Linked DNA regions of Homo sapiens. The protein of the gene in region 2 interacts with the protein of the main gene of each other region in a biochemical or structural test. Each region holds a gene or a part of one and is shown on either strand. Other genes may lie near its edges.

Evidence for each region.
Region 1: the proteins of CSTA (region 2) and LORICRIN form a complex in vitro, tested with the Homo sapiens proteins (one study listed by BioGRID).

What each region holds. Positions count from the first base shown.
Region 1 is NC_000001.11:153,258,061-153,261,807, reverse strand, and holds the start of LORICRIN (loricrin), read right to left. Parts: upstream 2,122-3,747; 5' UTR 2,075-2,121; intron 882-2,074; 5' UTR 859-881; coding exon 1-858.
Region 2 is NC_000003.12:122,331,668-122,335,314, reverse strand, and holds part of CSTA (cystatin-A), read right to left. Parts: intron 1-3,647. UniProt on the Homo sapiens protein: This is an intracellular thiol proteinase inhibitor. Has an important role in desmosome-mediated cell-cell adhesion in the lower levels of the epidermis.

The DNA of each region.
Region 1 (3,747 bases), on a different chromosome or scaffold from region 2:
CACGGAGGAGCCGCCGCCGCCGCCTCCAGAGGAACCACCTCCGCAGACGGAGCCCCCGCCACTGATGATGCAGCCGCTGCCAATCCCGGAGGAGCCGCCGCCGCAGCCGGAGCTCCCGCCGCCCCCGCCGCTGGAGAAGCAGCCGCTTCCGCCGCTGCCGCCGCCGCCGGACGACCCCCCTCCGTAACTCGGCTGGGGCGCGCACGAGGTCTGAGTGACCTGCTGCGAGGAGACGTAGCCGGAGCCGCTGCCGCCAGAGGAGCCTCCGCCGCAGCCAGAGCCGCCGCCAGAGTAGCCGCAGACAGAGCCGCCGCCCCCGCCGCTGGAGAAGCAGCCGGAGCCGCCCCCGGAGGAGCCGCCGCTAGAGACGCCTCCGTAGCTCTGGCACTGGACCGCCTGGCCCGAGAAGCCGCCGCCGCCGGAGGAGAAGCAGCCGGAGCCGCCCCCGGAGGAGCCGCCCCCACCGCTGGAGAAGCAGCCGGAGCCGCCCCCGGAGGAGCCGCCGCCACCGGAGGAGAAGCAGCCGGAGCCGCCCCCACCGCTGGAGAAACAGCCAGAGCCCCCGCCGGAGGAGCCGCCGCCTCCGGAGTACTTGACGCTCCCACCGGAGCCCCCTCCGCAGCCTCCAATGCCGCCCCCGCCCCCGCCGCCGGAGGAGCCCCCGCCGCAGCCGCCGCCAGAGTAGCCACCGCCGCCGGAGTAGCCGCAGCCAGAACCGCTGCTACCGCCCCCTGAGCCGCCGCCGCCGAAGAAGCCGCAGCCACCACCGCCGCTGCCGCCGCCACCGCCACCGCCGCCAGAGGTCTTCACGCAGTCCACTGGGGGCTGAGGGGTGGGCTGCTTTTTCTGATAAGACATCTTGTCTGAGAAGGAAGGAGAGCCTGGAAGGGGAGAAGAGAGCATCGCTGGACCAGCTGCAAGAGGATACTTACGGAGGCAGCTGCATCCATAGGCAACATCGCCATCCTCCCAGGGCTCCTTCAGGTGCCCGGAGAGCCCTCAGCGGGGTTTCTTATGATTGCTGCTTTTGGAAAAGTTGAGTTCCTCATTCCCCTGCAGAAAGCCTTCATTATGCTTTAAACAGCCCAGTTAGCAGTGCCCATTCTTTCTCCCAGCTCTGCCTCTGACCACTGTTGTGTGATTTGAGGGCAGATCACCCACACGCCCGCCTCTTTCTCATTTCCTGTTAAATGAAAGGGTTTGAACACTTCATCTTTCAGGCCTCTTCCAATCTCAACACTGATTCTCTGAGTGCAAATAGAAAACTACCACAAACCTCTACCTAGGATAGGAGATTTTACCCATTCCCAGCACAACAGAGAGAGGTTTGTCGGACTTCATTCTATTGAGGGCTGTTGCACTCCATCCTCTGCAGAAGCTCTTAGTTCAAACTCTTGGTCTGTCCCACTGAGCTAGGCCATGAACCAAGGGCTAGTCACTAGAAAAGACAGGCTCTGCTGTGGCCCTGCCTGGAAACAGGGGAAGGACCCTGGTGGTCCTTTGGACCAACATCCCCGACCAGAAGCTATTAGCCATCTCTTCCATGATTTTCTCAAGTCCAAGTTTGGTAGAAGGGACTTTGACTAGTAGGAAGTTGTATTTCCCTCTCAGAACTTCTAACTCTGTAAAACAGCAATTGGATTTCTGTGGCACCTGAAATCCCTCCCATCTGCAACTTTTTTGGATCATTCTCCCTACTCTCTTGAGAGTGGCTCAGCCTCTCCTCCTGACAGGTTCACAAGGTCTGCTCAGCCTGTGCACAGGCTGCCTTGGACAGCCTCTGCAGAGTCCTTCTGTGCCCGGCACCATGCCTGCCCCTATGCGGGTGCCAGAGAGGCAGGAGATAGTCTTGTCTTTGTGGAGTTTACATTCTGGCCAGAAGACCAGAAACACCATCTGCATGGCAGCAGCTCATCCCCTGCTCCTTTCCTGACCGCCCTCTAAATGTGAGTGCTTTTGGGAAGGCAGAGGTCCTATAGCTCCCAAAGGGGAAAGAGGCCCTGGTCCATCTAATCTAGTCAGGCCTGGGCAAGACCAGCTGGGAAAATGAGAGAGTCAGTAGAACCACACTTACCCAAAGCACCAGGAAGGGTGAGTGAGGAGAGAAGATGCTGGCAATGTGAGGAGCACTGATCTCCTGAGGTTATATATAGAGCTCTCCCTGACTCATTGATCCAGGCCAGCTTCTTGTGTTTGGCCTCAGTTACGTGACCCGTGGCTGTCGGCCCCACCTCCCTGTGATTGCAGGCACAGGATGGCCCATTCATGAAGGTTTTGGCATTCTTGAGATGGGCAGCCTGGTGTGTGACTGGCCCCTTCTCTGATGCAACAGTGTGGCAGGCTCATCAGTGGGGTCACCCAGTCAGAGTGGATGGCAGACATTGTTTCCAAAACCTCTGGCACAGGATGCATACCAGGTGACCACAGGGCTGTGCTTGAGGAATAGGTCCCAGAGTCTTGAGGTGCCCTAAGAGAGTCAAACTGAAGATCTCAGTGCTTTATCCAAGGAGTAGGACCTTCTAAATCCTACTGTTTGACTTCTGGTCCTGCTACTCTAAAAATCCTCAAAACTTTAGAACCCGTTACTCCTTTGCAAAAGTTTATCTCCCAGGATTTCATGTGTGTTTTGCTGGGGTGTTTCTGTCCTGCCCACTGGAGGCATGAGTCCCCAGCACCCAGCTCTGGACTGCACACCATAGACAGTGCTGTAACTAATGTGACGTGGGAAGCTACTTTGATTCATCCCCAGAGACAGCAGGCATTTGAGACAGTCTGAGAAGGGTAATCAATACTGACTTTCCTTGCAGCAGAGCAAACTAAAGAGATGGACCATGTGATCCCACAAAGGCTCTTTGGCTCTGTTGTCCTGTGGTGTTGTGTGGCAAAACACTGACCTTAGCCTGAGGGGCAGTCATTGAATGGGATAGACTTGAGATTAGGTGACAGATTGGGTGCTCCCTTTGCTACTTGCCAGCTGTGTCACCTTGGGCAGAGTCATAGCTCTTAGTGCAGTACCTGCACATGGGAGGCACTCAGTAAGTACTTATTGACTGTGGAATGATCAAGCTTTTTGACCCTCAGTTACCTTGTCTATCAAATAAAAATAGTAGTACCTATTTCACAGGCATGTGAAGGGAGAATAGTTATGTTAAGTGTAGAAGGTGATGCTGTCTTTTTTGTTGTTTTCTCATATAACAGCACATCCTTACTTCCAACCTGGCCTTCCCTTGGATACCAAGGCCAGAAAGGAGTCCATGGAGGGATTGGGCAAGTCCAATTCTTCTCCTAGGAGAATAACTCAAAACTTTCTTGTTGACTCTGGACCAGTAGCATCACCTCTGCGCATGCAGAACAGGATGCTGCTTCTTTCATAACCGGAAGTCAATTGGTATTGTTTAAGATACCACAGTCAAACTTTGTTCTGCCCAGTTATGTTTTGAAATGACAGCTCCAATAATAAATTCTTAATTATAGTGCACTTTTAATGATCCAGATGATCCTGATTAGACTGTGGCCATCAGAAACTTGTGGCACTAGTTTCAGTTTGGACAGCATAAACCCAGGTGAACCCAAGAGGAACTCAGGTGCTCTCCTCCTTAGAGGAGACCCAGTAGGGAGAAGACAGGATCTGTTGGAGAAGGCAAGTTTCTCTGCTTGAAGTTGAGGCAGTGTGGAGAATTTGGAGGGAAACAGGCCGCGATTAGTGATTGCTGTGGGTATAAGAAAGAACAGTTTTATTTAGCTGGG
Region 2 (3,647 bases):
CACCTGCAAAGTCTCTTTTGCTGTGTAAAGGAACCTAGTCACAGGTTCCAGGGATTAGGACATGGACATCTTTGGAGGGCCATCATTCTGTCTACCATGGAGGGATATGGGTTGGGTTTAAATGTCAGCATTCCCGAACCCAGCATGAGAAGGGAGACAGTCCCAAATTCAATATGTAAACTTTTACTGAGCCCATCAACTTTCTGTACAGTGCTTCATTCCCACTCTCAGCTGGGCCTGATATGCAAGAGTCTACTATGAGCTCTTGACTCAGTTCCTGCTAAGTGTAAAGCTCGTCTTCTGCCGGGGTGGAGGACAGTGAGGGAGAAGGAACTATGGGAGGTCTCACTGTCCTTCATACAGATCAGTCCTCTTGCTTTTGGTCTGAGACCTTACTCCTGGCTACGACTTTTTGGTGTTGCTCATGCCTGCGCCATTGTGACGTTCTGCAGTGTGAATCTGCTTGCTTCTGGCTTAGACTTTCCCCTCTATGGGCTTAGCTTCTGTTTAGACTGCTCAGCATTTTCCATTGTTCATCTGTTTTCCAACTTCCAAAATTTTATTGGTATTTCTGAGGTGGTACTTGCCTATCTCCTGTTGTCTTTATGTCTGTGGATTTGTCCTTCAACCCCAATTCTTTTCTGTCTTTTGGAGGAAAAAGGATATAACTCTCTGTGTTGAATGTACCTTGTTTATTGAGAACTTGCTTTTATGCCCTTCATGAAAGCATTGCATGTCCATACAACTTCAATCAGGCCTCCAGTCCATCTAGGATTCTCCCAAGGCAGTCCTTCCTATCAGTGGGCAGGTTTTTTTTGTTTTTTGTTTTTTTAAATTTAAGAGACAGAATCTCCCCCTCACCCAGGCTGGAGTGCAGTGGCGTGATCATAGTTCACTGCAGCCTCGAATTCCCGGACTCAAACAATCCTCCCTGGGCAGATGTTTTGAACCTTTACTACTGATGCCTCAGTTTGAGTACCAGAACTGTTTTCAAAGATGTAGACATATGCAAACTGTGAGTTCTCAGACCATTTCTGAAAGGCCAAACACTCCACGGACCACCACTCAGTTCTCCTGTAACCTTGAGAATAGACGGGAAAAGTGTGATTGTTCTGTTGAGATGGAAATGAAATTTCAAAGTGGAGAAAGGGAGAAGACAAATAGTGAGGACAAACCAGAAGTGGGAAGAGCTAGGGGCAGGAGAGCGGAGAAAGGATGCACAGAGAAGTAGAGTAAGGAAACAGGTTATTGTCTTAGGGTCCCTTTCCAAAGCCTTTCAAAATTCCAAAGGAGGGATGGCCAGTACTTGGCACCAGTCAAGTTAGGAGCTGAGTTTGAAAGAGTTAATCTCTACACTAACCCCCAAAGTATCCATTTAAACCTCATTTTATGAATGGAGAATGTAAGGCTATGAGTTGAGCATGACTGCTTAAAGTTGAAAAATTATTCAACATAGTTATTTTAAAGTCCTTGCATGATAACTTATATATCTGATCTGTGTTCCTTCTGCTTTTCAGTCATGTTTCTTTTTAAGCACGTATCCTAAGCCAACCAGCCTTTCTTTTCTTTTCTTTCTTTCTCTTTCTTTCTTTCTCTTTCTTTCTTTTTCTTTCTTTCTCTCTCTCTTTCTTTCTTCTTTCTTTCTTCCTTTTTTCTTCCTTTCCTTTCCTTTTCCTTCCTTCCTTTCCTTTCCTTTTCCTTCCTTCCTCTCTCTCTCTTTCTTCTTTCTTTCTTTCTTTCTTTCTTTCTTTCTTTCTTTCTTTCTTTCTTTCTTCTTTCTTTTCTTTCTTTCTTCTCTCTCTCTTTCATGGAGTCTTGCTCTGTCACCTAGGCTGGAGTGTAGTGGCACAATCTCAGCTCACTACAACCTCTCCCTCCTGGGTTTAAGCAATTCTCCTGCCTCAGCCTCATGAGTAGCTGGGACTACAGGCATCTGCCACCACTCCCAGCTAATTTTTTATATTTTTGGAGAGATGGAGTTTCACCATGTTTGCCAGGCTGGTCTCAAACTCCTGGCCTCAGGTGATCCACCCACCTTGGTCTCCCAAAGTGCTGGGATTACAGGGGTGAGCCCCCATGCCTGGCCCTAAGTTTTTATTTCTATCTGTCCTAGAAATATATCCAAATCTTTAACTTTTCCATCGTATCTGTGTAATCCACAAATGCAGAATTTTCCATGAGAGAGGGGATTTAAAAGATCTGGTTTGTTTCTTGAAGTGTTCTGGCACCTGTCAGACTGTGGACCTTGATTTCTGGTTCACTCTACTTGTAACTTGCAGCCTCCCTCCCTCTTCCCAGTAAAATAGATTTGCATGGTTTAATGTTAGATGACATGGACCTGAGTGATGAGATTTGAGCTGAGGAGCAGGGAAAGGGGCAGAGTAGGGGAGCTTGTCAGTGAAACTTAAGTCTCAGAAGGTAGCTTGGTGCTGAAAGACTCCCCAGGATGGGCACTAGGAGGATGCAGGCCAGCTGGGAACGGTGGTGGGAGACTGGCGGTGAACGGACACATCTCCTGCTGAATGCAGTTGGCCTTCACCTTTCTCAGTCTGCCACGCGTGATGGTGACGGGAGCTCAAGGAATACAGTGGAGGTTTGTCGCTTGGTCTCCAGCCGGGGAGGAGGCTACCAGGGAGAAGCACCTGGTATAATGCATTTAACCCAGAGTTCTTCAAGCATTTCTCATTGCTACTGAGCATGAATCTTGGTGAGGTGTTTATTCTCTGAGATCTGAGGATTTGAGCCATGAGGCACCCAACACTCAGGCTTTTCCCCTAATCTGTAGTCATTCTACAGAAACAATAGGACTGTGCCTAATTTAATAGAAAATAGATAGAAAGATATTGATGGCAAAGTGGATGAATTACATTTGGGGGAGATTTAGAGAGTAAGGAAGGAGAGTTTGAATAGTAACATGAAAGGACAGTAGGGCCAGTAAGATGTGACTTGTGGACATTTATTGTCTAAGTATGTTTTGAAGGAAGAAGGAAGTATGGGACAAGGCATTGAGGATGCAAGAAATGAAGTCACCTGGCTAAGAGAGGAAGGACTGGCTGAAGAGAGGAGAATAGAGTCTAGGGAGGAATGAGATCCAGCAAGAGATAGGGTCAGCTGGGGCATTTTCTTACCAGAGATCTGCAATCTCCTAAGACAGGTGTTCCCAACCCCTGGGCTGCAGACCAGTACCCATCCATGGCCTGTTAGGAATCGGGCTGCACAGCAGGAGGGGAGCAGTGGGCCAGTGAGCATTATGGCCTGAGCTCCGCCTCCTGTCAGATTAGCGGCAGCATTAGATTCTCATAGGAGTGGGAACCCTATTGTGAACTGCATGCAAAGGATCAAGGTTGCGTGCTCCTTATGAGAAAATAATGCCTGATGATCTGAGGTGGAACAGCTTCATCCCAAAACTATCCCCTCCACCCCATCTGTGGAAAAATTGCCTTCCACAAAGGTACCAAAAAGGTTGGGGACAGCTGGCCTAAGAAGAGTAGGAACTGAGACATCCTGCTGGAGGGACCATGGGGGTGGGAGGCAATGAACAACTGAAGAGAGATTTACATTTGTGGGGTTTCTAGAAAAAGACCAACAAATATGACTGCAAGAATGTTCTGGCAGCCCTGGGTCCTGTCCGGGTTGTTAAGCATTAA